Linked DNA regions of Homo sapiens: region 2 is linked to region 1. Evidence: fine-mapped expression QTL. A gene starts in region 1. The other region holds a variant in brackets. All regions are shown on one strand. Distances are between the middles of the regions.

Region 1 (14,975 bases):
AAGGGGCTAGGGCTCTTGCCAGGTCTTTCCAAGACCCAGAGCTGCCGACAGCCCAGCCTGGACCTGTGGGTTCTGCATGTGTTCCTGGCAGCTGGGCCTGTCTCTTGGGGCCATGGCCCGGGCTCAGGGGCCTTTGAGCTGGACTGAGGGCACTTTCGCTTCCTTGCTGGGACTGGAATGGCTGCCTCCTAGTTGGCTGGGGCTTGGTCTCTGGGCCCTGCCCTTTGTGTGTCGGGGGTAGGGACCTTAGCGTGGGGGTGGGACAGGACAGTTGGGTGTGCTGGCTGTTCTCATTCCTCTTCCCTTCTTTTAGCAATCAGTCTTGGGTGAGGTGGGAAGGGAGGCTGCAGGGGGAGGTGGCAGAGGGGCCTTACAGCAGCAGAGGCTGGAAGGGAAGTTCTGTCTTCAGGGGCCAGCTGGGAAACACTAAGGAGCTGAGGGTGCCCACCAGGCCCACCTTCCAGAAGCTTGGAGAAATGTGGGTTGGGAACTTATGCAGACATGGATTTACTTTTCAACATGTTTTAAAAGTTAAAAAAGAAAAACCTTCTAAAAAAAAAAGTAGCATCTTTAGAGGGTTCCTGTCTCTACTACATAGGTTTCCTTGAGTATAAAGGAACCAAAAACATCCAAGTTATCTCTTCATTATTAGTAGGGGGCGACATAGGGTGAGGTCTGGAGATGAGGAAGTATAGCAATCTCTTAATAATCCTGCTTTGGTAATAATGAATATCAATGGAATTTCTCAACTTTATTGAAGGGACAGCTGGAGTTCAGACTTAAGGAGAAATGTCTTAAAAGGAAAAAGCGGCATGCTTGGTTTTGTATCTTGTTTGAAAATATATTTCAAACGTTCAGCAGAATTTTAGAGATCATAACCACCCTCTGCCCCCACCACCTTCTGAACCCTTAGTCCCCAGTAGTTCTGATTTACTTTTAAGATTCTTTTAGTTTTATGTTTTAACTGAAAAAAAAAAAAATCCTGCCCAGCCAGGTTTCCATCTGTCTGTATCACCGGGTTGAATTTAGTGTAGGAAAGCCTGTGCAAAGGGAATAAAAATGTAGCTTTTTTTCCATTGCCAGATTCAGGGGAACCAACCATTTGGAAACAAAGGAGTTCCATTTTGACTAGCAGCCTTTCTGCTTTCCATCAGTGGACAAAGTGAATGTACAGGTTTAAACATCATTTGGGGTCACCTCTAGATCCATGTTTGGAGGTAGATTGGTTTGTTAGTTATGATTCTGGCAGGAAACAGGTGACACATGCAAACAGATACATTAATTGAGGGACCATGGCCGAGCCATGCCAGGATGAAGGGAGACCAGCAGAGGCTAGCCACAGCGACAACCATGGAATCCCACAGGCCTGAGGAGGAGGGTGAGGGAGTGGTTACTGGGTCCACGAAAGGCTGTGGCTACAGTGTAGCTGTGAGAGAGGACAGCCCACAGGAGCTGTGGCCTTGTAGAGGGACACAGCCATGGCCAATGCATAGATCAGCAGAGAGGGAGCTGGGAGAATAAATATTCAAACTTCACCCTAGCTGTCCACCCCTAGATCTCTGGCTGGGGCTTCCCATTGGCTGAATCCAACGAGAAGCCAAAAGGCAAGGGTGATGTCCATAAATGTCAAACTTCTGGGTCTCAAGCAAAAGGGGGAGCAGTGGGGAAATGGTCTGCAGGGAGAAGAAGAGACTATTCAACACAGACGGGGAAGAAGAACTAAATAGGAAGGACTAGGGAAGGGGTGAAAGAGATTGCGGTGATGGTTTCAAGGGTGTAGACTTATCTCCAAGCACAACATGTTGTATATAATAAATAGGTATGGATTTTTGTATGACAGTCATACTTCAATGAAGGCTTTGTAAAAAAAAAAAAAATAGGGGCAGGAGAGCGAGGCAAACACTCGGTCTTCCATGAACTTTGCATTTGGGATTCTGTGCGTGGGGATGAGTGCCTGAGAGATGCTGTTTGGACTGCCATATTCCCAGGGCTTCCCCAGGATGGGTGATGAGTGGGGCTGCCCCCACCCTGGGGCCATACGCCAAACTGCCCGACCGCAAGAGCCCATGCTCAGAGCTGATATTGGTTGCTTCCTCCCGACCTTGGTGGGGCTATTTTCTAGGGAGTGGCAAGGACATAAGAATGAGAAGCCACACCAGCTTGGTGGAGAGCACTAGAGGGCTCACTGCGAAGTCCAGCAACTTTATTGTCAGCTCAGAGCATCTCCCCACCAGAATCTCAAGGAAGCGGAAGTACAAGTGGCTGTGAAGTTATCTGCGTGTTTATCTTATCTTCTGCTATTCATTTCAAGAGTTGGAGTTATTATTAATAAGAAGGCCTGGTTTCTGGCAGCTCTTCTCTTAGAATGGGTTTATGCCAAGCTGCCAGTTATCAGAGGATTCAGAGCCTAGGATTATGCTGACAGCGAGTCTCAGAGCTGTGATGGGAGGGCAAAGACACGGGAAACAACGTTGTATTAAAGAGGAATCAGCGTTTTGTGTCTAGTCCTTGATGCCCTTTTGGCTTCCTATTTCCGAAGAACAGCAAGGAAAATACAAGGAGAGACAGACTGGAATCCTGTGAATATCAGAGAAAAGCTTGATTTTCAAGAGACTGCTCAAGTTACAGAGATTCCCCAAATCTGAAGAAGTAATTAACTGATGAGTTCGCATACTTCATGCAGGGTGAACTCCAGCCGGTCTAGAAAAACACTGTGATGGTTGATGATTTACCATACTTTGCTTTCAACCAGTAATTGTCTCAGATTCTTAACCACTGATGGTTTTGGTGAATGTTTTGGAGAAAAGGCTCGAGAGAAACTTCATGACACTAAACATACTCTCTGAGAAGTGTGGTGCTAGAATGCTAAGGTGATGTCCTAGACTTCGCAGTCTCTTAAACATATCTGACATTATATTATGCTATGGCATGCTATGCTATGCTATGCTATGCTATGCTATGCTATGCTATGCTATGCTATGCTATGCTATGCTATGCTATGCTATGTTATGTCTTTTTAGGCAATAGCTCATCCCTCCCTAAAGCAGAGTGAATGCTCTTATTTAGCTTAAAGACAGTCATTGGACTTTGAGTAAAGAGTCATTTTCTTGTACGTTCCACTCCACCCTCCAGTGTACATTTGCACTCTGCTGGCGAATGACCATGAGCTATTAAATCATGACAAAGAAAAAGATGACAACTGTAATGTTGGGAGTGACCCCCAAGTCCCACCTACTGAAGGAACACCACAAGCCTTCCTCACTTTAAACCATGGCATGGGGGCACTATCACCAAGCATAAGAATGCCCAGCAATCGTCTGGGGCCATGTTGGGTGGGCAGAGAGGATGAGGCACTGAGTTCCTTCAGCCACGTCTTAACTGTGCCATGTCAGAGAGACTTTTCATGTTGATTGAACTGTGTCCAACTCATCTCTCAGCACCAATGCGAACTTATTAAACAGCTCTTCCTCTAATCTTTTTTCAACCATCTACTCATCAGCAGACTAGAAAGAAGACTGGCTCATTTCTTTTTCCTGTCAGCCACCAAAAGGGCCTGGGAGCTTTGATAAGGGCCTCGATGTGGAAGACCACATAGATATCAGCAAAACTGTGGAGGAAGAAGTGGTCTGCTTAAAACCTAAGAGGACAATACAGGTACTATTCCACCCACTGGGTGGTATTTCCAAATTCTGCACAGGGGGTTGTAGCTATGTAGATGAGGCTTAGAGAGAATTCACTGACCACCAGAACAAATATTCTCAGTTGCTTTCAATCTCTGCCAGCCAAGTCATGCTACAGACCACTGTCAGATGAAAAAAAAAAAAAAAAAGAAAGAAAATCAGAAAGAAAACTGAAGCACCAATGATAGCCATCTTGTGACTGTGACCAATTGCCTACTGAACAGTTCTTAATGTCCTGGGCCCCAGCAGGAAACCACTGAATCTATAAAGTCCTGTCCACCAGAAATGAGTCTGATTGTGGATGGCCTGGTTAACCCAGATTGCCTTCGGTGCCTGAGGGACTTGATATTTTCTCATTATGAAGACTTTCCCATCTAGTGAACGCTGCAAATAAAACTGCTCAGAATCGGTCTGAACTGCCTGTTTCCGTGGTAGCAGGCCTCTGTCTGGAGGATAAATCTGCACCATCTTCTTTTTTTTTTTTTTTTTTTTGGGTTTCAGCCAGTTGTGTTACAAGGAGTTCCGAAATGTGCTATAAGTGACACCCAACAAGATGGGCTCGGCCAGTTGGAGAGGGAAGCTTTGTCACCAAAGGGACTTGCACCCCTGGGCCAGACGGTGGTGTCCAAGAGAAAGTGATCAAAGAGATACAGAACCCGCATGCCTAAATATTTATTTCAGTTGTTCGTATTTCCCACACTTTTCAAATGTGAACTTGTGTCCTGAAGGTGGAGCTTTAGTACACAAGAAAATTGGGAAGGGGCAAACATGTTTGTACAAAATGGGGGTAGAATCAGCAAAGAATGCATTTATATGCTTCCTCGTCGCCTACGTTTTTCATGCCAAAAAGTTAGCACAGATTCTGATTTCTTTCACCGTAGGAGTCTGCATACAATTAAATGGGAGGCAAAAGAAGCCCACTCTTAAGAGTGGGGCTTATGGTCCCAGTAGAATGGCAGGGAACTGTAGCCATCAAAGCCATTTATACTTCTTGTGGGTAGTATTTTTAAGATGTTGTTTCTTTTTCAAAATGAAGCAGCAATGAACTGAGTAGTGATCAAAATGCCGCACCACAGAGTATGTTTAATCCAAATAGCTCCCAAGATGGTCTGTGACTGATTGTACCAACTCTACGGGACTTAGAGAAATGACTTGGTTACCAGTGAAGTAAAACTATCTCTGGAATGGAATTGAACTGTTGCTTCTCAGCACATAGCGACACTGCCACCGCTGGTTCACGGAGCCAGTGAAGGTCACTGAGTTCTGCATCAGTCACAGGGAAAACTGTCAAAACACCAGCGCATAAATCCCCTACTATGCTGTGGAGGGGGTCTCTGAGCTTCGGATGAGGTTTTTAAAATATTGATCTTCCCACTTCCAGAGGTGCAAAAATTCTGAAAGCATTCCAGGAGGGCAGGGAGTGGGGGAGCAAGGCCAGATATTTTGGAGCAGGTGAAACATCTGACTTGTCTTGCCTGAGATGTCCCGATTAACACCAACTGGGTACTTTAGGCCTTTCCCCTTCTTCCTCCCCTCTCCTTATGGACACTCCAACACCATCATCACAGCACAAAGGGCAACCTCATATCTCGTGGGAAGGCATTTTCTGCCTCCTGCCAGGCAAAGATAATGTTATCCAATTGCAAATGAAAGGCTTATGAATGAAAAGATGACCACTCTGACTTTAGTGTATGAGAGCCACTGCTGAAATGATAGGATCCTTGAACTTCACATCTAGAGCAGAAACTCACACTTCTCTTCTTCTCCCTCCACCTCACCCTTCTTTCCTTAAGCCTTCCAGAACTCCTGCCATATCCCTCAGCACTGGGGAGAACTTGAAGCACTGTTGGAGAAGTTTGAAACCTGCAACCTTCGGCAGGACTCAGCATGGGACAAAAGCCACCTCATTCCTTTCCCTTCCCAAAACAGCATCTCGAGCTGGGGAACTTGGAGGGAAGGAAGAAAGGGGATAGCAGCCAATTGCCCTCCCTGGGGCCTGGGGTCTGGAAATAGCCTGGGAAGGAACAGAGATCATTTCCCAACGATCCATAGAGGTCCTCAGCACCCTCCACTCCTATGCACCCCCTGGCTCATCTGCCAGACTGTAAGGGTGCTGATGGTGCCCGCAGCTGCCCCGGGAAGCTGGGAGGCATTTGTGCATCCTCTGGGAAGCCCCATTCCGAGAAATCATGAACCTATTCCCCAGTGGGCAATGATTCCCTGTGCTTCAGAAATTCTTGGCGGCTGTGGGGGCAACCCAGCTGTTATTCACCCTCTGGGTGAGGTGGTGAGACCTCAGGGGGTCCAAAGGATAAAAGTGGGTAATGATGAGACAGATGGAGAGCCTCGAGGGAAATACGGGGACTTGGGTCTAATAGTAGAAAGCAGGGCGGGGGCTGGTTGGTGCATTTAACTTGAGGAACTTTTCAGTCTCACTACAGAGAATGATCTCTGGGGGATTATGGCAATGGCCACAGGTGGCACTTAACTAGAGCCAGGTATGTAAGAGGCCCTGGGGCTAGATATGGATTCGAATCTCGGCTCTGATATCTACCAGCAGTAGAATGCCAGCACGTTCCACAACCTTTCTATAACCATTCTCCTGGACTACTAAGTAGGGATGACAATAACAGTCACTAATTAATAGGGCTGTTATGAGAATTATGAGTCTTAACCCATGTGGTGAGTTCACAAGCGCACCCGGCACGTAGTAAGTGCTCAGTAAATGTTAGCCCCGCTCATTAGGTTAGATGGTGAGCAGAACTTTCCAAGTGCTAGGCTTGAGAGCCTGGGACTCTGTTGCCAAGGGAGATTAGAGAACCTTTGCAAATATGGGCGCTCCGGCCCTGGGGATTGTCCAGAACGAGAGTGTGGCGCCTGCCTTTCTGCCACCTCACTCATCCGACCCGGGGAAACCCACACCCTGTCACAGGGGCGCCTTGGTCCCCGGAGTCTCCGGCTCGGCCATGTCTCCCGCGCGCCTCCCCGGGGCCTCCCTCTCGCCGCTCCACACCTGTCAGCCGCTCTCGCAGCAGCCCTGTGGCCCGAGCCCGGGGCCTCAGCTGCAACCCCTTCGCACCCTGGATCCTCGCTCCGCGCGCCTGGCGTATCCCCGACCCGGCTGCTGTCGTAAACAAAACCGGGCGTTGGAGCAGCACCGCGGGCGGACGGGCGCGGGAGCCCGCTCCGTGCGCCGTTAGCGCGCCCCGGGAGCCCCAGGCGAGCCAAGGGGGCGATGGTGGCGGCCGCGGCGGCCGCGGCGGGCGGCTGAGCTTTGTTATGAATAGATGAAAGAGGCCACCTACACAGTAACCCAAATTACGAGACCTCCCTCCTCCCTATCTCACCGAATCAAGAGGGGAGGGGAGATGGGCGTGGAGGGAGGGCGGGCGGGCGGGCAGGAGGCGGAGGGCGGAGGAGGAAGAGAGGATGAGGAAGGGGGCCAGTTGCATCCCACTTTCACAATGGGAAAGTGAAACGCACAAGCGCACCCAACCTCTCCAGCCCTCCCCGCCCGCCTCGCTCCTCTCCGCCCGTCCCCTCCCTTCCCCTCCGCGCCTCCCCGCGAGCGCCAGCGCTGCACACAGGAACTCTCCGGCGAAGGAGGGCGAGGAGGAAACGGTGCCGGAGCGCGCAGGGCTTGCTGCCGCCACCGCCGCTGCACAGGCTGCCGGAGCGAGCCTGCCGCGCGCCGCCCTCCCCGCTCTCCTTCCTGGGCGAGCTGCGGGGATGGGGCGGCCGCGGGAGCCCGAGCGCGCGCAGGAACCGCCGCCGCCGCCGCCCGCGTCTCCGTTGCCGCGCGCCTGAGCCGCCGTCGCCGCCGCGCGCCCTGCCCGGGGGCGGCCCCCCCAGCCCCATGGAGGTCTCCCGGAGGAAGGCGCCGCCGCGCCCCCCGCGCCCCGCAGCGCCACTGCCCCTGCTCGCCTATCTGCTGGCACTGGCGGCTCCCGGCCGGGGCGCGGACGAGCCCGTGTGGCGGTCGGAGCAAGCCATCGGAGCCATCGCGGCGAGCCAGGAGGACGGCGTGTTTGTGGCGAGCGGCAGCTGCCTGGACCAGCTGGACTACAGCCTGGAGCACAGCCTCTCGCGCCTGTACCGGGACCAAGCGGGCAACTGCACAGAGCCGGTCTCGCTGGCGCCCCCCGCGCGGCCCCGGCCCGGGAGCAGCTTCAGCAAGCTGCTGCTGCCCTACCGCGAGGGGGCGGCCGGCCTCGGGGGGCTGCTGCTCACCGGCTGGACCTTCGACCGGGGCGCCTGCGAGGTGCGGCCCCTGGGCAACCTGAGCCGCAACTCCCTGCGCAACGGCACCGAGGTGGTGTCGTGCCACCCGCAGGGCTCGACGGCCGGCGTGGTGTACCGCGCGGGCCGGAACAACCGCTGGTACCTGGCGGTGGCCGCCACCTACGTGCTGCCTGAGCCGGAGACGGCGAGCCGCTGCAACCCCGCGGCATCCGACCACGACACGGCCATCGCGCTCAAGGACACGGAGGGGCGCAGCCTGGCCACGCAGGAGCTGGGGCGCCTCAAGCTGTGCGAGGGCGCGGGCAGCCTGCACTTCGTGGACGCCTTTCTCTGGAACGGCAGCATCTACTTCCCCTACTACCCCTACAACTACACGAGCGGCGCTGCCACCGGCTGGCCCAGCATGGCGCGCATCGCGCAGAGCACCGAGGTGCTGTTCCAGGGCCAGGCATCCCTCGACTGCGGCCACGGCCACCCCGACGGCCGCCGCCTGCTCCTCTCCTCCAGCCTAGTGGAGGCCCTGGACGTCTGGGCGGGAGTGTTCAGCGCGGCCGCTGGAGAGGGCCAGGAGCGGCGCTCCCCCACCACCACGGCGCTCTGCCTCTTCAGAATGAGTGAGATCCAGGCGCGCGCCAAGAGGGTCAGCTGGGACTTCAAGACGGCCGAGAGCCACTGCGTAAGTCCTGCCCCCGGGGCGCCGCGGAGAGCGCTGCTGCCGGGGAGCCGCCGCCGCCGCCGAGGCAGAACGAGCTGGGGGCGAGCGGCGGGGCGGGGGTACAGCCGGGTGACATTTACCAGGTCTCAGGTTCACACCGCGGGCGGCCGTCCGAAGGCTCCTCTCGGACGGTCCCCGAGACCTGGAGCACGGCCTGAGGTCCCCAAAGGGAGAGTGTAAAAAGGGGGGCGGGGAGGGTTGGAGTTAGACTCAAAACTCTAGTGGCTGCATCCCATTGCCATCCTTCCCTGTCCAAACGGGGACGCTTGTTTGGGGCTGAGTCTCCTCGCGCAGCCCCTCTTTCCCATTCGCTTCTCCAGACTTCTCTGTGCCCCTTCCGTGTAGTCCCAGCAGGCGTGTGGGTCTGACCCTCTTGGTCAACAGTTAGCAACACAGTGCCCTCGGCAGAGAAGCCATTGAACCTAAAGGGCTCCCTGCCACACCCCAGCCTTTGTGGCCCCCTGTCTCCGCCCCCCACCGGCAACGCAAGTGCTGTGGTCTGAAGAGTTGCTAGCCCGCTCAGCGTGGAGAAATGCCAGCCTGCAACAGAGGCTTGCGCTGGAACCGAACCCCTGGCGTGAGCCGGTGCGAGGGGGCGGTGCCGTGGCTCTGCTCAGGGTGCGCTGTGGTCGCCAGCCGCCGGGAGAGGCTGGGCGGGAGGTGGCCTTGTGGTAAAAGCCTCATCCTAGAGGGGAGTGCAAGGGAAAGTGTTGGGGGTGCTACAGGCAGTTTCTGGGCTCCAGATTGCGAGACTAGATGGCGGGACTCAGAGTCACCACCCTGGGGCTGAACCAGGCAAGCGATACAGGTTTCCCCTGGGCTCCCAGGGCAGCCACAGCTTTTATCTTGAGATTGGCATTTCTTTGACTGGAAAATAAAGAGGCAGTTCAAGAGGGTCCAGTTGATGGGGATTATGGAGCCATTGTGCACTTCTCCGGAGGCCGTTTCCCTTCCAAGGCGGCTGGCACATCAACTCCACATATGGCTCCTGAGAGGGGAGCCTGCTGGGAGCCTCCTTTATAACTGGACAAAAATCAAAGCGCAGAAATTAACGGCTACAGGTGTTGCCATTGTTTTGGTACAAAATGAATCAGAGAGGAAGGGGAGAAGTCACTGCTTGGAAAATGTGTTGATACAGGGGCACGTTGGCTCCCAGGTATATTAATATGTGTATAGAAAGACAGCTTCCCCCACCCCCTTCTTTCTCTGCAAAGCACATCTTACCAAATATTAGCCCTATGAGCCAGGGAGAAAAAAACCAGGAGGTCTTTTGCAAGGCTTCTTAGAACGGTCACTTGCTGCTGCTTCTTTGCCTGTCAAGCTGTGTGCTGGGACACACACATTAAGGCCTTCATTTTGTTACTGGTATAATTTTTAAAAATATGTAAAAACACATATTTGCCTCCTAAATGACTTGCTGTTGCCGTACACATATAATGTAATATTTGATTCCTGTCTTTATTAGATCTTTATAATCTAACGGTTTAAGTTTGGTAAAATTATCGTTTCCTACTTCTCTGTTGAAAGACTTGAAAGTACCCCCGAAATATTACTTTGTGTCAAGCTTTAGACACACTTAGTCTCTGGGGTTAATGACAAGCCAGCTCAGAGGCCCACAGCAGGTAATGAGGGTGAAAGTCCAAGCTTTGCCATCTGACAGCTGTGTCGATGTGTGGAGCCAAAACATTTCTCTTGACTGCGTCTCTCTACCTATTGGGTCCTGGAAGACTCAGTTCCCTTCCAAACCCAGCCAGCATCTTGAATGCACTCAAAATCCACGTTTTGGCTCAATCAGGTGTTCCTGCTTGTGCCGGGATGGGGAGGGGCAGTGGCAGAGGAAGTCGCGGAGCTTCTGCGAGAGAGCTGCCCCTTGGAAATCAAGCAAAGGATAAACACATGCTGCCAAAAATCTGGAACTGGAAAAATAAATAATTAAAATGGGTCCCTCCACAGCATTTCTTGCTGCTATTTATCAAGAACTCCCAGTGTGCTCAGAGCTGTGTGTTCTGAAAGACAGGGTCTGTACCCCCTGAGCTTGTCAGCCAAGTTAAATAATATACTCTGGTTCAAACAATAGCATGTCATGGCTGCACAGGTGGGAGCTTGGAGCTTTGCATTTTTTTTTCATTTAAGTAAATTCCTTGCTGCTAGTATGCATTGAAAAGCCTTAATGGAATTGAATTTCAAGAGGAGTTTGAATGAAAAAGGGTGGTAGTTTTGATGAAAAAGCTGACAATTTTCTAACCTATTAAATAGGTAGAGAAGATACTCAATTCAACAAATATTTGTTTGATGCCTGCTAGTGTAAGCAATGCTCTGTGCTGGGTGCCACTGATTTTGCCACTGAAAGGACGATAGCAGATTGCAACCTTGTGTAATGGGGTCATGGGATCAGTGTGCCCCTGGCTGTCACTCAGAAGAATGATGTCATTTGATTGCATTTGTTCTGCATTTTATTTTCAGGTCTTGAATGTGTTTTTGAAAAGGCATGCTGAATTATAGGTGCCTAAAACAGGAGCAGGACTTGAAACACTCTAGAGGGAACCTCAATAGATTCCAACAGCAATTCCTTTAGAGCAGACACAGTAATTTTAACAGTAATCCACAGGCTGCAAGGCACAAGCGGCTGGATTTGCTTGCCTTCTTTCTCCCTCTCCTCCTAGCTGGCTCTTATTTTCCGTCTTCAATCAGCCATAGGTAGAAAAGTGACAGGACTGACTGGGTTGTATTTTCCCACTTTCTGGTTCTCTTATCTCTTGTCACTGATCCTCCTCTCCTTCAGCTTCTGCTAAGCAGTGATTTACGAGATGCTTGTGTAATGAGTGTGTACTCAGCTGTTTACACACTGGACCATTACTTTTTCTGCCTTGCCACCAACTTTGAATCCACTTTCATAACTGTAGCAGGTTAACTGCAGCTCTCAAATGTGCTAAGGCAACCGATTTCTGTAGACCCTCTCTCTAATAATCTTCTGTGATATTTGTACAGCACTTCCACATGTATTATTTCTTTTGAGCCCCGCATCAAGTCTGAGGTTGATTCTATGGGGATGATTTCATTTTCCAGATGAGGAGGCTAAAGATCCGTTAAGCAGCTTGCTCAAGATAGTTAAGTGCCAAAGCCCTCCACCTTAAATCCAGGTCTTCCAATGTCTACATCTCTACTCTTCCCACCACCCCAGGGTTTCTCGAACTTTCCCTTGAAGGTCCCCTAATTAAATTGGCAGCAAACAACCTCCCCTAGGATGTGGGGTTGAGGCTAGAGGGTAACCTCAGAAGGCAGTACATGCCTCTAATCTTGGCTTGTGTTTTAGAACTTCATGTGGTCTCTTTCCTTTTTTTCATTCTTTTTTATAACACACCTGTGCTTGGATTAGTATAAAAATGAATGTTTTTAATTATGCACAAGTTAATCAATTTGACTTCCTACCTTTCTGAACTCTCACTACCCCTGGCACACCAACGTGATACACAGAAAGTGTTTGTGTTCGAGTTTGTGGAGTCTGATTGCTCCAGACTTGTTTGGCCACCATTGTTGGGTTCTGGGGTCACTCGTGGTTTAAACATGGCAGCCACCCCTCGGTAGACATTGAGGGTAGTACGTTTTCCTGCAGTATTGGTCCACAGGACTCTAGATCATTCTAGTTTGTTCTCTAGTTCATTCTACCCTTTGTAGGGGGACATACCGCCTTCTTCCACGCCTACATAATTCTAAAGCCTGACATAATTTAACTGTCATGCAGACAACCACAGAATGCTCACATGCTGCCCAACAGAGAGCAACCCAAGGAACATGTGTGGAGAAGTGACATCCCAGTTCCACTTGGCGATGCAGCCTATTGACCTCAAAATCCGCAGTCTTCTTGTGATGTTTATTTCTCTTCCAGCTTCTGTTATGATTTTGTCAAGCCATTTTGCAGTCTATAGACTAGATGGTGATTTTACCCTCATATACACATATTATATGCAAAAATGGATTCAAAAAGGACAATTGCCATGACAGCACCCACTTAGAAAGAGGGGAAAGCAATCATAGCTACTATCTACTGAATAGTTATTATGGCCAGGTTTTGTGTGAAGCAATTTACATGCCTTATTTTCTGTTGATTCTCATTCACCATATGGGGCAAGGACTGTAGTTATCATGATGATTAGAGATGAGAAAATTAAGGCCCAGAGAGCTTCTGTTAGGTTCCATAGCTGGAAAATAGCAGAGGATTTAGAACCTGGGTGGTCCAGCTCTACGACCTGAGCTTTTAGCCACCTTACAAGTCTATATTAAGGAGCCCTACCCTATTACTATTAATAATCATGATGGTGATGATAGTAAAGACATCCAAAGCACACGGCATTTTCTATGGGTCAAGTAGTGCTTATTCTATACACATTAACTCATGAATCCAGAGAATATTGCTGTCAAGGAAATGGGATTCCCCACTTATAAATAAAGAAACCAAAGCACGAAGGGTTAAATAATTACTACATGCAATAATGTGTACATGTCCACTGCCATGGACAGTCTGTCAGCATGGACATTAGGTCCTGATGTCAACCCTAACCTGTATGGAGCAAGCTAAGCCCTTGCAACTGCTATGCTAAGACCAGCTTTTTGTGGACACAGGCATAGGATAGCAGAGAATCCTTAGTTATGAGCTGAGTTTCTAGGTTTGCATTGGTGACCACCTGAAGTTCTGACTCTGGCAGGATTGTAGTTTCTTAACTGTGAACTTCTAGACAGTGTTGGTGTTCTGATCTATACATCATCTCAAAGGGTGTTCTCTGTTGAACCCCCCATACCTAGCATAGTACCCAGTATGTAGTTGGGACTTCAGAAATATTTGTTGAATGAATAAATGAAGGATCGTAGAGAATCATGTTGGAAATGTTTTCTCTACTCAGCAGCAACACTTTCTGGGAGTCTGGTCACCTCATACTCCCTTAATCATTGTCTTTTTCTTAATGCCTGATGTGTCAGGGCCCCTTCCTTCCTTAGTTTTAGGTTACATGGTGTCCTTTACTCCTTCACCTCTTCCCAGGTACTTCCATTCATTGGAATACCAGGCTTCTGGTGTTGCCAATCTGAGAGTTACTTTTGACCATGGAAACCTAGCATGGTTGGAACTTCTATGGTGTAATTTTTGATTGCCTTTCAACTATGAGAGGAAAGGGCTTTATGCTGTAGGCAGTGGTCCTTAAAGTGTGGACTGTGGCCCAGCAGCATGAATATCACCTGGGAACTTGCTAGAAATGCACATTCTTGGACCCTACACCAGACTTACTAAATCAGAAGCTCTGGAGGTTGGGGTGGGACTGGCAATCTGTATTTTAGCAAGCTCTCAACGTGATTTGAAGTCATGCTTAGGTTTAAGAACCACTATTGTAAGATAAAACAATTTTCCTTGTGTTCCAACTGAGGCACCTAGGATAGGAACTTGTCGCATTTTTTTTCCCCTTGCATTTTACTTAGGGCCATAAAAAGTAACCAACACATTTTACCACCTGATATTCCTTATTCCCTCCTCACTGATCAAAGGCAGTACCTAGAAAGCCCTTTAAAGACTTGCCATTTTTGGGCTTAGAGTCTGAGTCTCAAAAACCTGTAAGCCATAGTTTAATTAGCTCCTTCACTCTTGCATATAACAGTTTATTTGTATTTCACTCCCAGATGTGGGGGGATGTCTAGAGTCGTCTATTGTGCTGTACGCCAGAACCAATTCCGCACACCAGACATTCTCTCCAAGGGTCCATTCTTTACAACATCAGTCCTGTTACCAATTTCTATCCTAGTCATGTACAGTTGGTTGCATGGAATAAAGATCTACTTGAGTAAGGTCAGATAAAGGGATGAGGGATATTGTGGACAGAAACACATGGAATTACATGGTAATCTAGGAATAAAAGCAATGCTGTGTTATGGTTATGTGCACAGTCACTGGAACCAGGTCAATTGGGACCAAAGCTACCAGTTACCAGTTGTGGGACTGTAGACAAATTATTCAACCTTTCTGTGCCTCAGTTTCTTATCTATAAATAGTGATCCTCTTGGTTTCATAGGATTATTGTCTGGATTCACGAGTTAATAAGTATAGAATGAATACTACTAACTACTTAACTCATAGTAAATGTTATGTCTGTGTTTACTATCATCACCATCATTACTACTAATAGTGTTAGGACGGGCTCCTTGATATGCAGTTGGAAGGTGGTTCCACATTCAAGGCAGCTTAAAGGAGCTCAGTCAGCATCAGCAAATGATGGATGCTCCTTCCTTAGTCTCCCTGTTAACATGACTTAGCCTGGCTGCTTTGCACCATCCTCCTACCAAATAACCTCCTCTGC
Region 2 (14,975 bases), 34 kb after region 1:
TCAGCTGGAAAAAGCTGAAGAGCCCTATAAAATCTTGAATGCTAATAGCGTCGTTTTTCATTTAATAAATATCTACTGGGCACCTTGTATGTGCCAGGCACTGTTCTGGGTGCTGAATATACAAAGGTGAACAAAACAGACAATGCCCTTGCTCTGCTGGTGGGAAGAAAAAGACAGAAAACAAGTAAATGGATTAATCAGCGATAAAGACACTTCAGATAGTGCTATGAAGAAAATACAGTGATGGGTAGAGAGTGACAGAGGTGTTCAGCGGAGAAGTGATCAGGGAAGGCTTCTCAGAGGAGGTGATGTTGGAGACTTGAAAGATAAAGGAGTATACAAGCATACACATGGAGAAGGTTCAGATTGACTTCAGATTAGATCTATATTAAGGTCGTATCCTGGAAGATAAAAATCCACATCGTGCCCAAGGATTGTGTGTGTGAATTGGATGAGATTTCTCTTATGCAAAATTCAACCCGTTTTGGGTTTTTGTGACTCATTGTTACTTCCTGCATTGCTTCACTGATCATGTTCTTTTTCCGAGGCTGCCCACCTAAACTGAGCTGAGGAAGGAACGTTTCCCTTGCTCCAGTCTTGCTGGCTTTTGTCTGTGTGTTGATATTCTCCTGAAGTTTGCAATTAGAAAGTCCAAGTGTTCCATTAGTGCCTGTGGGCTGGGGCTCGGGCTAGGTGAGAGATGATATGAACACTGACCTGTCCTTTAGTCATCTGAGAGAGATGAGACTCCAGGGGCCACGGAAGCAGAAATCCCTCACCCCTCTGTGTAGCACATTTGGGACCTTTGTGGTGAAAACTAAAACTTCCTCTTGTCCTGTCCTCAGGATTATGGAGAGCATTGTTTGCATAATCTAGCAAAAAGAAAAACAATTTGACTCACTCACCCTCAAGGATTTTTAAATTTAAATGTTATATATTTATTTTTAAGGTAATACAATGATATTGTTTAAAACTCAAAAGAACCAAGAAAATATTCCGTGAAAGGCACCTGGTCTTGACTTCCAAGGCAACCAATGATAGTAGTTTCATGGGTATCTTTCCAGAGATAGTTTATATCTGTCTACAGGCAAAAGAGTGAAGATATTCTTCCTCCCTTTTGTTGAAACATAAAACACAGTAAACATATATGTTATATATGTAAAAATACCTGTATATGTAAATATGTCTATATTTATAGATATATGTACATATTTCATATAACTTTAAATATAACACAAAGAGCTTTCTAATTATTTTTATAGCTAAATAGTATTTCCTTGTTTGTACTATAGTTTACTTAACCAGTTCCCTATTGCTGGAGATTTAAGTTGTTTTAATCTTTTCTTTATAACATACAATGCTACAATGAATATATGTCATTTCATATATATGTGTGTGTGTGTGTGTGTGTGTGTATATATATATGTGTATATATATATGTGTGTGTGTATATATGTGTGTGTGTGTATATATATGTGTGTGTGTGTATATATATATGTATATATATATATACGTATATATATGTATATATATATACGTATATATATATGTGTGTGTATATATATACATATATATATATATATATATATGTATATATATATGAGGGGCTGCAGGGTCCAAGGGTATGTCCTTTGTAATTTTGATAGATGATGCCAAATTACCTTCTAGAGAGGTCTGGCTTCCACCACTGAGGAAACATACTAATTTAAACCCAGCATCTATGGCTATCAGGACAAGCTTCAGTGCAAGCCACGCTAAGTAGCTTTTTCAGGAAACTGATTGGTAAATCCTGGGCCACAGAACTTTTTGATAACTTGTAAAAAAAGAAAGAAAGAAAAACAAAGAAAGAAAGAGAGAGAGAGGGAGAAAGAAAGAAAGAGAGAGAAAGAAAAAGAAAGAGAGAGAGGTAAGGAAGGAAAGGAAAGGAGAAAGGAAGGGAGAGGAGAGGAGAGGAGAAAGGAAAGGAAAAGCTTCCTTGCCACAATTCAGAGTTCTAGAGAGAATATTGATGCTTCATTTCCAAGGTACCAAGTAAATAAATCAATGTTGCACCCAACTAGATCTTGCTGACCATCTGTATCAATGATGCTCCAAGAGTAAATAAAATAAGCCCCCAATAAAAACTGCAGTGCAGCTCCTAATTTACGTAAAATGGATGAGTGGTGGTGTAAAGTATGTTTTTACTTTGTTATTTTAAAGCAAACCCCACAGACATGATGTCGTTTCACCTCAACATATTTCGTTATGCATCTCTCAAAACCTACAGTTGTTTTCTTAAATAATAGTAACCATAATGCCATGATCACAGCTAATAAAATTATCAGTCATTCTTTAGGATCACTTACTATCCAGTCTGTGTAACTAAGTATTCCCAATTGATTCAAAAAGGTATTTTAAATGGTTTTGTTCAAATTGGTATCTGCACAAAGTCCTCAAACCAAATTTGGTTGTTCTATTATCTAGAGCAGTCTCCTCCCTTACTTTTATTCCCTGCCACTGACTTAACTGAAAAAACCAGGTATTTTGCCCTATAGAATGTCTCTTATCATGTGTTTGGCTTTTTGCTTCCTTGTGGTGTCATTTAGCTTGTTCCTCTACTCCTGCTTCCTAGTGCTAAATGGAAGTTAGTGCTAAAGACTTGACTAGATTCAGTTTCAACTTTATTGGCAAGAATACATTATGGGTGGTGCTGCCCAATGATGCTTTTGCCATGATGAATTCCTGAAGAGATACCAGGGCAGCAGCTTCTCTTCTCTTGACCCTTCCTTGATAATATTTCTATCAGTGTTTGTTTAAAAAAAACAAAAACTGGCTTCCTGTTTCTCTTTCCCTATACAACTGCTTTCCAGAACCAGATCAACTGAATCTGAGCTGATTAATACAGCTAATGAATTAGAGACGGCAAATCCTGGCAAGCCCATACCTTGGTCAGTGCCTGTCCCTTGGCTCCACTTACAGGATTCTGTAGAGCAGTGTTGGCCAAGAGAACTTTCTGTAGTGATAGAAATGTTCTACATCTGTACTCTCCAGTATGGTAGCCAGTCACCTTAGGTAGCTAGTGAACACTTGAAATGTTGCTAGTGTTTTTAATTAAATGTAAATTTTTAATTAAATTTAAATAGCCATTATGTGGCTAGCGGCTGTCATATTTGATAGTGCAGCTATAAAGTCGTTTTAAAATGACTTGAGACACACACCTTTCCCACCTCCCTTAGGACCTAACTGCTTCTGTTTTAAAAAGAGCTTTTAAGAAGTCATATTTCATATGTTTGGTTAGTGAGATTGACTTTTACAAAGCTGCTGCTGAATTTGATGAGCAGTCCAAGGGCTTCAAGTGAGCCACTATTTGCACCAAATCCACCTGGGCTTGGCCCAAGCAGATGATGGAAGGAAGTCACTGATCGCAGGGCAAAGCTAGACTCGGGCCCAGGTCCTGGAAAGGAGAAGTGAATGCGGGAAGTTGCTCTGTGCAAAATTGATAAGAAGCCTTTGGCTAAACAGCAAATCCCTAACTGCCATCAGGATATGTGGGAACAGGCATATTATTGATTAGTAGATGTGTGAAGTAGACTTTGTCCAAAAAGAATCTCAGGTGCCAAATTTTTCTTTTGAAACCATGCGCCCAATGTGGCTGATGTCTACAGTGGTAGAGATATGAATACAGATAATCTATCTGGATGTGTTCAAACTGACAAAATGTTGAACACCTTCACTTTTCAAAGTAGTGGGTACAAATTGTGTTAGGTACAAAGAAGATTAAAGGTTAGGTACAAAGGTGATTAAGACATGGTCCCAGGCCAGGCACGGTGGCTCACGCCTGTAATCCCACCACTTTGGGAGGCAGAGGCGAGCGGATCACCTCAGGTCAGGAGTTCAAGACCAGCCTGGCCAACATGGTGAAACCCCGTCTCTACTAAAAATACAAAAATTAGCTGGGTGTGGTGGCGCATGTCTGTAGTCCCAGCTATTCAGGAGGCTGAGGCAAGAGAATGGCTTGAACCTGGGAAGCAGAGGTTGCAGTGAGCCAAGATCGCACCACTGCACTCCAGTCTGGGCGACTGAGTAAGACTCCATCTCAAAAAAAAAAAAAAAAAAAAATGACATGGTCCCTGCGCAAAAGGAGCTTGCAATCTAGTAACAGATTATTATCTATTGACTATTGATTATGTGCTAAGCATCTTTCATAGTTCTTATTTGATCCTTACAAAACTGTAATAAGGAAGGCACTATTAGCCCCATTTTAGAGATGAGGAAATTGAGGCCTAGGGAGATTAAGTTACCAGTTCAAAGTAGTGCAGCTACTTAAAGGATGGAGGCAGGATGCAAACTCAAGCTTAAGCCACCATTATACTTCTCTAGCACTATAGGATTCGAGTCTCCCGATGGCTCTTCATACCCACACTTCAAACCCTGCCTTCTTACCATCTCCTCTTGCTCCTTGACCCAAAGCCCTGCCATGGCCTCCTCTCTCTCATCTACAGTAAAAGGCAGGCTGTTTACACAGGCCCACAAGACCCTTGATTATCATTCCCCTGTTATCTTACTATCTTACTGTTCACTCCTCTACCTCTCTCCACTGAAGCCACCCTGGCCTCCTCCCATTTTAGTTTCTTTGCACTGACAGGGCTGCTTTTAAGAACATGTTTCATTCAAGTATGAAAATAACTCATCTCCTGCAAGTCTAAATAAATATCACCTTTTCAGTGACACCTACCCTGAACATATATTCTCTTAACCCCTGACCCCACTATATTTTATAATTTACTTTTTTCTTATTAATAGTCTGCTGTTACTCACCCCACCATACACACACAGGAATGTAAGTTCTATGAGGTCAGGAGCTCTCCCTTCCCCATTTTGTTCACTGCCATTTTTCAAACACCCAGAACAGTGCTGGGTACATAATGGGTGTTGGGTAGATGTTTGTTGACTGAAGATGGATGAAGCTCAGGTGTGTCCAATTTCAAAACCACTGAGTACTGAGTCACACTTGCGTATATTTTATATGTGAACACAAACCTACTTGTCTGTATCTGCCAAGTTAATCTGGGTCACTTCTAACTGTATGATGATCAGAGTATCCTGTGCAAATACATGTGGGAGCTACTTCCTTTAATTTCCAGTCTCTCTTGAGACAGCACTAATGAAGCTGTCACTTGTGGCTTCCTATAGGGCCAGACATGGTCAGAAATTGTGGTCAGCCAGCTTCCACATATGAGGATACTACCCCAGCCCTGAAGAGCGGCTTTTTTTGTTTGTTCATTTTTGGTAACTTTGCCTTTACAAAAGAAGAAATATTATGCTTGTTATTACCAGCCTTGTTGAGGACTGAGATGTGGGAGGATGATTAAGGAGCATGGTACCTTAGGCAGTATTTGTAGTGAGTGAAAAAGGATGTAGCTTTATGATTAAGCTACAATTTTTGCCACCCTGCTATTCAAAGTGTTGAATAGAGGCCGGAAGTGGTGGCTCACACCTGTTACCCCAGCACTTTGGGAGGCTGAGGCGGGTGGATCACGAGGTCAGGAGATCAAAACCATCCTGGCCAACGTAGTGAAACCCCATCTCTACTAAAAAAAATTAGCTGGGTGTGGTGCATCTATAGTCCCAGCTACTTGGGAGGCTGAGGCAGTGGAATTGCTTGAACCTGGGAGGCGGAGGTTGCAGTGAGCCAAGATCATGCCAATGCATTCCAGCCTGGCGACAGAGCGAGATTCCGTCTCAAAAAAAAAAAAAAGTATTAAATAGAAATCATGTTTCTCTTTTTGAAAAAAAAAAATAGGTTATTCTTGGTGAGAATTTGACTTCAAATTGTCCAGAGGTTATCTATGAAATTAAAGAAGAGACACCTGTTTTCTACAAACTCGTTCCTGATCCTGTGAAGAATATCTACATTTATCTAACAGCTGGGAAAGAGGTAGGTAGAAATACTAGTTATTGCTTCTGATTTATGAATAAAAATGGTTTAATTGATGTCATTATCTAGTAGCAAAGCTTTTACTTTGAACTACAGAGTTTAAGCAGTGCCCCAGGCTTTGAGGAGACCCGCAGTGGTTCACAGGCACGGAATTAAAAACCTTACTGACTGTCAGTAAGTAAGCAAGAAATATTATCTATTTAGACAATTTTATTATTGGCTATATTTCCAGTGCCAAGTTTTTCAGAGGAGGGTGTGCTTGGAAATGGGCGCATAATCAGCAAGGTAACTGAATTTACACATTTATTGTGTGGGCACTGAACGGTTAGATGCATTTATGAATATACCCAATGGGACTGGCTTTGGAATTTGGGGTTAATATCAGGCCACAGTCTCATACACATTCATGAACCAGGAAATATATGGTACTCCCCCTCCCCCTCTTCATTTATCTTGCTGTTTTGGCTTTTCTTTTGCTTCTGCTTACTGAAATAAAAGTAATATATTTTTATATTTTCTTCATCTTTACCAAGTGCTGTCACCAAGGGAAGGGGAAAAGAAACTAATTGTTAATGAGTCTCTACTATGCATTAGTCACTATTCTTTGCATGATCTCTGTCTAGGTGCATAGAATTGTGTACATATACATACACACAAGTGTAGAAAACAGTGTTAATGAAATGTGTTACTGACCGGGCATAGTGGCTCATGCCTGTCACCCCAGCACTTTGGGAGGCTGAGGCAGGAGGATCACTTGAGGCCAGGAGTTTAAGGCTGCAGTGAGCCATGATCAAACCACTGTACCCTAGCCTGGGTGATGGAGCAAGACCCTGTCTCAAAAAAAAAAAAAAAAAAAAAAAAAAGGCTGGGCATGGTGGCTCACACCTATAATCCTAGCACTCTGGGAAGCCAAGGCAGGGATCACCTGAGTTCAGACGTTCAAGACCAGCCTGGGCAACATGATGAAACCCCATCTCCACTAAAAATACAAACAATTAGCTGGGCGTGGTGGTGCATGCCTGTAATCCCAGCTACTTGGGAGGCTGAAGAACAAGAATCGCTTGAAACCAGGAGGTGGAGTTTGCAGTGAGCTGACATCACACCACTGCACCCCAGCCTGGGCAACAGAGTGAGACTCTGTCTCAAAAAAGAAAAAAAAAAGAAAGAAGAAGAAAAAGAAATGTGTTATTAATTTAATAAAAATAAATGTGTTATTAATTTATTTTATGTGAAGAATCTAAGACTTGGAGAGGTTAAATAACTTGTTCAAGAATATCTGTATCTATCTATCTATCTATCTATCTATCTATCTATCTATCTATCTATCATCTATCTATCTATCTATAGGTTAGCCTTTGCAGGGCTGTGACAAAAACTCAACCCTGATTCTAAAGCCTCTGATAAATGATATTAAATCCAAAATTTGTGAAAACTGGACATTCCCTGGCTCAGTGGTTTTGACCTATGACCGTTTGAACATGGAAAGTGCAAAGAAGATAATTGAGACTTACATAATTATATAATGGATGTAACAGATACTCTCAGCCCAACCCTGGTTTTCCATTCTTTTCCTTTCAGTCATTCTAAGGAAAATAGCAATGACAGCAATCTACATGTGCTTTTTGAGTCACAGATAAGATGTGCAAGCAATTTGTAGTTTCTGGTATTCTTATAAAGACGATACTGTTCTTTGCACATTGAAAAGTCAGTTATATCAAAATGACCACACTGAGATGGCCACATCTTCCCACAGAGCTTGTAAACCAGTCCTTCACCATATAGAATCTCCTATGCCAATTTGCTTCACCATGCAGACACTTTGTATTATGTTTCTTCCCTGGGGATCCCATCTTTGAAAGACTTTTGTCTACCCAACAAACTGCACATATTAAGTAACAGTTCCCATTCCCAGGGTTTATTTATCAAGGGCGTCTCAAAACTGCCGGTCAGAGTACTGACTGTGTTCCCACATGGAGCTGATAAAATTCCAACCCAAAGCAAAGAAACTTGATATCTTCCTTAATCCATGCGTGTTTTTCCATTCAGCTGTCTGAAATATTGCAAATAGCTCATAAGCCCCCATTACTTCCTTCATGGATAGTAATGGAACCCCAGAACTCAGGACCCCAGGCTGGGAACCATTATGAAAAGCCACCAGTAGTTGATGGGTTCCCACTTTCTAGAAAGCAAAAAGTTCTAGCCTCTGATCATTCAAAGCCTGAAGTCCTGGGAAG[A/G]GTTTTTGACTGGGCATCAAAGCTGGTTAGCCCTGCATTCTTCACTGAGGATTACTGCTAGAGATCCTACTGTTTGAACTCTGGCTGAGCAAATATAACGCCTAAAGAGACAAAGTCCAAGGAAGGCTCTTGGGGAGATAAGAACAGCCAAACTAATAAGCTATGGGATATCCATAAAATGGTATGATACGGGGCCGCTAAAAATAATCATATGGAGATGTAGGCATTGATATGGAATAGTCACTACGGTCTGTTATTAAATTAGAGGGCAGGTCTAATGTAGTATTTTTAGTGTCCTCTCTCTCTCTCTCTTTTTTTTTTTTATGGAGTCTTGCTCTGTCACCCAGCCTGGAGTGCAGTGGCGCAATCTCAGCTCACTGCAACCTCCGCCTCCACAGGTTCAAGCAGTTCTCCTGTCTCAGCCTCCCTAGTAGCTGGGACTACAGTCACACGCTACCATGCCCGGCTAATTTTTGTATTTTTTTTTTTTTAATAGAGACGGGGTTTCACCATACTGGTCAGGCTGGTCTCAAACTCCTGACCTCAGGTGATCCACCCACCTCAGCCTCCCAAAGTGCTGGGATTATAGGCGTGAGCCACCTCGCCTGGCCCTCTCTCATTTTTTTTTGAAACAGAGTCTCACTGTCGCCCAGGCTGGAGTGCAGTGGTGTGATCTTGGCTCACTGCAACCTCCACCTCCTGAGTTCAAGAGATTCTCCTGCCTCAGCCTCCTGACTAGCTGGGATTACAGACGCCCACCACTATGCCCAGCTAAATTTTGTATTTTTAGTAGAGACAGAGTTGGCCAGACTGGTCTCCAACTCCAGGCCTGAAGTGATCTGTCCACCTCAGCCTCCCAAAGTGCTGGGATTACAGGTGTGAGCCACCACGGCCAGCCAGTGTCCTCCCTCTTATACAGAGTTATATTTGTGTGTTTAAATAGACTGAGTAATAGTTCTCAGAGAATGTTCTGGAGACCCATATTCCACAGAATGCTCTGAGCAAAAGTGGTCCCAGAACCAGCTGTTACTTACTATACCCCTCCTGGAATACTGTGAGGCTCAGCATAGTCAAAGGCTCCGAGAAGCCCTGTGCTAAGGAAACCCGTTTTGCTTTTTCAGTCTGAGGTTTTATGTTTGCTGGATCATGGAGCCCTTTTCTTGCATAATAGCAGTAACCAATACTTATTGAACATTTAGTACCTGTCAGACAATAGTTCATAATAACCCCATGAAGTCGTGATCCATTTTACAGATGAGGAAACAAGGTTAGAGAGATTGCATGACACTTATTAAAATCCATCAGTGTTACAGAGGCATTTGTGAACTACAAGGAAATACCTCTATTCTGGTTAATTCCGGCTCAGGATCACGGGCTGCCAGCTGCATCTGTCAGCAGTGTTGGGGACTATGAAATGGAAGGGCGTGGTTATCCTCCATGAAGTCAACTTGGAACTGAAGGATCCAGCTCAGGATAGTCCTTGTTTTCCTCACAAAATAGAGAAAAATAGAGAGGTCCCTTCTAGAACTCCTTATTTCTCTAACCTGCTAAAGAAGTTATTTATACTATCTAGCATGTACAACTTCCTGGCATAATGAGTTCCACAAGTTCCCTTACTACCTGCTGTGTGGTTTTGCCTGCAGAAAGTGCTCTGTGTGATGCTCAGTTACTCCCTGCCTCTCACCGCCCTACTTGCAGGCTCTGACTGGCTGCCTAGATGTCTGGGTCTGCCCAGCTGGGGTGCCCTCTTTGTGGGCTGCTGTTTCCTGACAATGGCAAGAGGCAGCTCTAGGGATGGGGAAATGATTTGACTACTCCCCCTGTTTCTTTTATTTTCAACTCCACTGGAGGGGTGTGAGCAAAACAAGCCAGGAGCTGAGGTGACGGCGCTGCCCCTGGCAGGGGTGTGGGAGGGCCTCGTCCCTGGTCCTCCTCGTTTCCACATTGAGTGCCAAACTCCTGCTGACACTCCTGGGGCAGAGCCTTTGTTATTCCCTAATACTCATTTCCAAAATGCCATTGGCCACATATGGACTGTCTCTGTATGAAAACCAGGCAACCTGATTCCATGATCCGTATGGAAATCATCATTAGCAGATCGGAAACCCAACTGGGTGTCAGACTCACCTGAGAGAGAGCTCTTAAAATACAGATTCCTGGCCAGACACAGTGGTGCACGCCTGCAACCTCAGCACTTTTGGGAGGAGTGCTTTGAGCCCAGAAGTTCAAAACCAGCCTGGGCAACGTAGTGAGACCCTGTGTCTTTAAGAAAAAAATCTTTTAAATGAAAAAATACAACTTCCTAGGCTCTGCCCCCAGACTTAGCGAGAGTCTCTGCGGCAGAGGCCTGGGAATACGCACTGTCAAAAGCTCCCCAGGTGATTGTGATACAATGACTTCATGTCCTAGATCTTGAGACCCACTGCCCAGTGCCAGTATGGAGGTGTTGAGTTCAAGTTGATAAATAGGCTCTTTTTGGCCCTTCATTAGATAAGGTGTTGTAGTTTTCCTGCTGTTGCTTATAATTCCATCTGAACCATTGTCCTCTTTCCTTTTAGGTGAGGAGAATTCGTGTTGCAAACTGCAATAAACATAAATCCTGTTCGGAGTGTTTAACAGCCACAGACCCTCACTGCGGTTGGTGCCATTCGCTACAAAGGTATCTCCTGAATTCTTTCTCACCAACTCGCATTTTTGAAAAAGTGTCATGCGGCAGAACACTTGTTGCCCTACTTTAACGATCCATTCCAGTGACCTGAGGGAACTGATCTCTTCCTCGACTAAAATCTTGTTGTGCAATCCTAATGAATTCTCGAAGGTGTTTCCAGCGGCGTCCGTGCTATGCAATCACTGGACCCGGGAGCTCCCCAGTCTCGGGGCGGGAGGGGCAGGTGTGCAGCCTTCAGGAGAACGGGAGAGAGCAGGCAGGTTTGGCTTTTACTTTCTCCAGAGTTCGCCAAGACTCAAGAGAGAGGCAAAAGGGCCCCCCCTCCGAGAAGATAAAAGAATAGAGATGTCTGAAAATTTTTCAGCTGAATCCCCATCATGTATGTCATGTATTCTGTTCGCTCCGCAGAAGCCTCGTTATTGATGGCGCCGTCTCCTAATGCGCCGCGCAGCTGTGGGCCTGATGTACAATCTCAGTCTCCGGGCAGAATCTGCCCAGCCTGGTCTGGAATGACGATGCTCACGACCCATCTAGGCTCAGGGGCGACTCGGAGCGGCTTCCCCGCCATGGCAGTTTCCTAGCGTCGCTGGGCCCGGCCTGGTTGGATTCGCCGTCGCCATGGCAACCCAGTACTGGGGCTCTTGCTGGAGAAGCAAAGGAGGAGAGAGCCTTCGCTGCAGCTCAGGCAGGAAAGAGAGAGAGAGAGAGAGAAAAAAAAACCCATAACAGTGTCTGTCAGTTTGGTGCTTTCAGTTTTTAAAGGTGAAAAGGATAAGAAAGAGCAGAGCAGGTGGAGAGATGCTGAAGGCTGAACCAGGGGACAGTTTGGGTTTAGAAAAGAGCAGGAGGAAGAGAATTGGTGACTGAAGGGGGAGACAGCCAAGAGAAATGAAGGGAGAGGGGGAAATGCAATACAAGCAAGAGGTTTAGGAAACAAATCAAAAATACGGGGATGGAATTAATTAAGAGTTCACGGGGGAAGGCGCAATCCGAGCTGCAGCAAGAGGAATAATTGCCCCTGCCATTTGCTACGCTTCCTTACCGGGCTGTTTCCGTCAGAGTCACTGGCAGACAAACGAAGCAAGGGCCAGAAAAATGCTCATGAATAATTCACTGATCACGAACGGGATTTGTTTGTTGCACACTCAGTGAGCAGTCTTGCCATAATCTTTTAGATCCATTCATTTATGTAGCATCCCTGTCTGTATTTGTAGAGCTGTGTACAGGAGTCAATTCGATAATGGTGGCGATGATGGTGGTGATTAAATAGCCACATGGAGCTAGCGGCTAACGTATTAACAAGCTCAGCTCTGGAGCTTTTGGGAGATCTCCAAGCTGGTGATATGAATTTGGGAGTTGGTAGTATTTTAGATGGTACTTAGAGAAGCCTTAAGACCAGACGAAGGAGTGAGTGTTGATTGAGGAGAGAAGTTTGAGAACTGGGCCTTGAGGGGCTGTGGTGTTTAGGGGTTGGGGAGAAGGAGGGGAAACAGAACAAGAAATAAGGAGGGAGCAGTCAGAAGGGGAAGAGGAAAAACTGGAGAGGGTGGTCTCCTGGAAGCCAAGGAAAGAAAGGAGGAGGAAGTGATCCACTGGGTCAGATTCAGCTGAGAGGTCAAGCAGGAGAAGAAAAGAATGGATCCTTTGCACTTAGCAGGTGACAATGGGTGACTGCTGGGAATGCCATGGTTAGGAGTGGCGCTAAATCCACAAGAGACAATGGGAAAATAAGACCTTAAGAAGGGACAGCTTAGAGAAGCTTTACTGAGAAAGGCAGCTGAAAAAAATGAAGCAGACACTGAAAGCGAAAGTAGAGTCCAAAGAATTTTGTCTTTTTGTCCTTTTTTTTTTTTTTTTTGAGATGGACTCTGGCTTTGTCTCCCAGGCTGGGGTGCAGTGGCATGATCTTGGCTCACTGCAACCTCCACCTCCCAGGTTCAAGCCGATTCTCCTGCCGCAGCCTCCCGAGTAGCTGGGATTACCGGTACGTGCCACCATGCCCGACTAATTTTTGTATTTTTAGTAGAGATGGGGTTTCACCATGTTGGCCAGGTTGGTCTCGAACTCCTGACCTCAGGTGATCCGCCTGCCTCAGCCTCCCAAATTGCCAGGATTACAGCCGTGAGCCACCACGCCCAGCCAGTTTTGTCTTTTTAAGATGCATGAAATAACAGTGCATGTCTGCACTGTTGGGAAAATTCCAGAAGAGAAGGAGAAATGGATGATACAGGAGAGAGAAGGGTTGTGGAGTGTTCAGTCTTTCAGCAGGTGGAAGAAAATATGACTTGGTGTGCCAGTAGGGAGGCCAGCCTCAGACAGGAGCACTGGCCCCTCACCCTCAGTGGTAGGAGGGAAGGTAGGGACTCTGGGCCCAAGCATGGGGAGGTGGCAGAGGCCTGTGTGGTGTCTTCTCCTATTGCTCACATTATTTTCAGTGGCCTACGGCCATTGAGAATGAGGTGAGGGAGGAAGCACTGGAGGTTTGAGGAGAAAAGAGAGAGAAGGAGTGGACTGGAAGACTAGGAGGGAGAATAGAATAGGGAAATATCGAGCGGTTGCCAGGAAGCATTAGGGCCCACTTGAGGTTGATGGTCCTGTGTTTGAAGTGAGAGCTGTAAGCATGGTTTTGTCTTTCTCAAGCTGCGTTCAGCTTTGGTGGTATAGCTGTAGACTCAGAAAAAGTTAGCTTTAGCCAGTTTGGGGGCTTTGCCGGAAAATACATCAAGAAAGGAGAGAGTGGCCAGGGAGCTGAGGGAGCATGTAAGGAATGGATGATGATATCGATATGGATGTTGATTCATATAATGATGGCACTTGGGCTCTAAGGAGGGAAATAAGGACCTGATAGGGGTAGGGATGTGAAAAGGTGGCAGGGTCTGTGTTGGAAGTTCAAGTTGAGTTTAAAGATTGTTAGGGGCAGGCGCGGTGACTCACACCTATATTCCCAGCTTTTTGGGAGGCCAAAGTGGGTGGATCACTTGAGCCCAAGAGTTTGAGACCAGCCTGGGCAACATGGCAAAGACCCCATCTCTACAAAAAATATGAACATTAGCTGAGTGTGGTGGTATGTGCTTCTGGTCCCAGCTACTCGGGAGGTTAAGGTGGGAGGCTTGCTTGAGTCCCAGAGGTAGAAGTTGCAGTGAGCTGAGATCACACCTCTACTTTCCAGCTTGGATGACAAAGTGAGACCCTGTCTCAAAAAAAAAAAAAATTGTTGGAACTAGAGAATTGGAAAGGGGAATTATTGGACTGTGGGGGCTTGATATTGAGGTCATGGAGGGATGGAGTTATTGGCAATGACAGGGTCTGCCATATGATTGTCAAGATCATTGGCAGAGAGGTGTCAAGGAACTGAGGTGGTTACCAGAGTACTAAATGGCTCCATCATCTGTGTGGAAATCGCAGTCACCAAGAGAGTGAGGAGCTACATATTCAAGGAACGAAGGGAAGTGGCCAGGGCTGGGGTGGTCTGTAATGATCACAATGAGGAGGGACCTGGGGTGGTTTGAGCTGACAGCATGGGCTTTGAAGCTGGGGAGGAAGTGTTGGAAAGAGAGAAGAAGGATCTTCCAGAAGAGGCTGCAAGACACAAATAGGACAGCTAGATGAGGGAGAGGAAGCAGCCAGGCCTTGAGAGGGGCCTGGGGAAGCTGTGGCCTCGAAGGAGAGCTGGTTTCAGTAATATTGAGAAGGGGAAAGGAACAATCAGAGAAGAGGTTGAAGACATGGGGGCTTCTGTTGATAACTGGCTGTGAGTTATAGTCTTTTGTTTGTTTTGAGACAGGGTCTCATCCTGTCACCCAGGCTGGAGTGCAGTGGTGCAATTACAGCTCACTAAAGCCTAGACCTCCCCAGGCTCAGGTGATCCTTCCACTGCAGTCTCCCAAGTAGTGGGGACCACAGGTGTGCACCACCATGCCCAGGTTTTTTTTGTATTTTGTAGAGACGGGGTTTCACCATGTTGCCCAGGCTGGTCTTGAACTCCTGGGCTCAAGCAATCCTCCTTCCTGGGCCTCCCAAAGTGTTAGAATTAGAGACGTGGGCCACCACACCTGGCCAAAAGCCTGCTTCTGCTCTTGCTCCCTCACCCCTATCCCAGTGCGCTCCAAGAAGAGTGATTCATTTAAAATCCAAATCAGATTATGTCACTCCCCAG

Evidence for each region.
Region 2: its variant is fine-mapped to the expression of PLXNC1 in whole blood (TOPMed, PIP above 0.99).

What each region holds. Positions count from the first base shown.
Region 1 is chr12:94,141,436-94,156,410 of GRCh38, forward strand. It overlaps PLXNC1 (plexin C1), which reads left to right and starts at 7,142. Exons shown (of 31, transcript NM_005761.3): 1 at 7,142-8,598. The coding sequence starts at 7,537. It also overlaps the pseudogene RCOR2P1. RefSeq lists silencers at 6,909-7,038, 7,049-7,298, 7,369-7,598, 7,729-7,968, 8,629-8,768 and 1 more and enhancers at 8,169-8,268, 9,609-9,668.
Region 2 is chr12:94,175,664-94,190,638 of GRCh38, forward strand. PLXNC1 (plexin C1) reads left to right here. Exons shown (of 31, transcript NM_005761.3): 3 at 5,783-5,917; 4 at 10,710-10,810. It overlaps PLXNC1-AS1 (PLXNC1 antisense RNA 1), which reads right to left and starts at 800. Exons shown (of 2, transcript XR_007063411.1): 1 at 718-800. RefSeq lists enhancers at 9,566-10,067, 11,234-11,734. The variant A/G (reference allele first, on the strand shown) is at 8,152.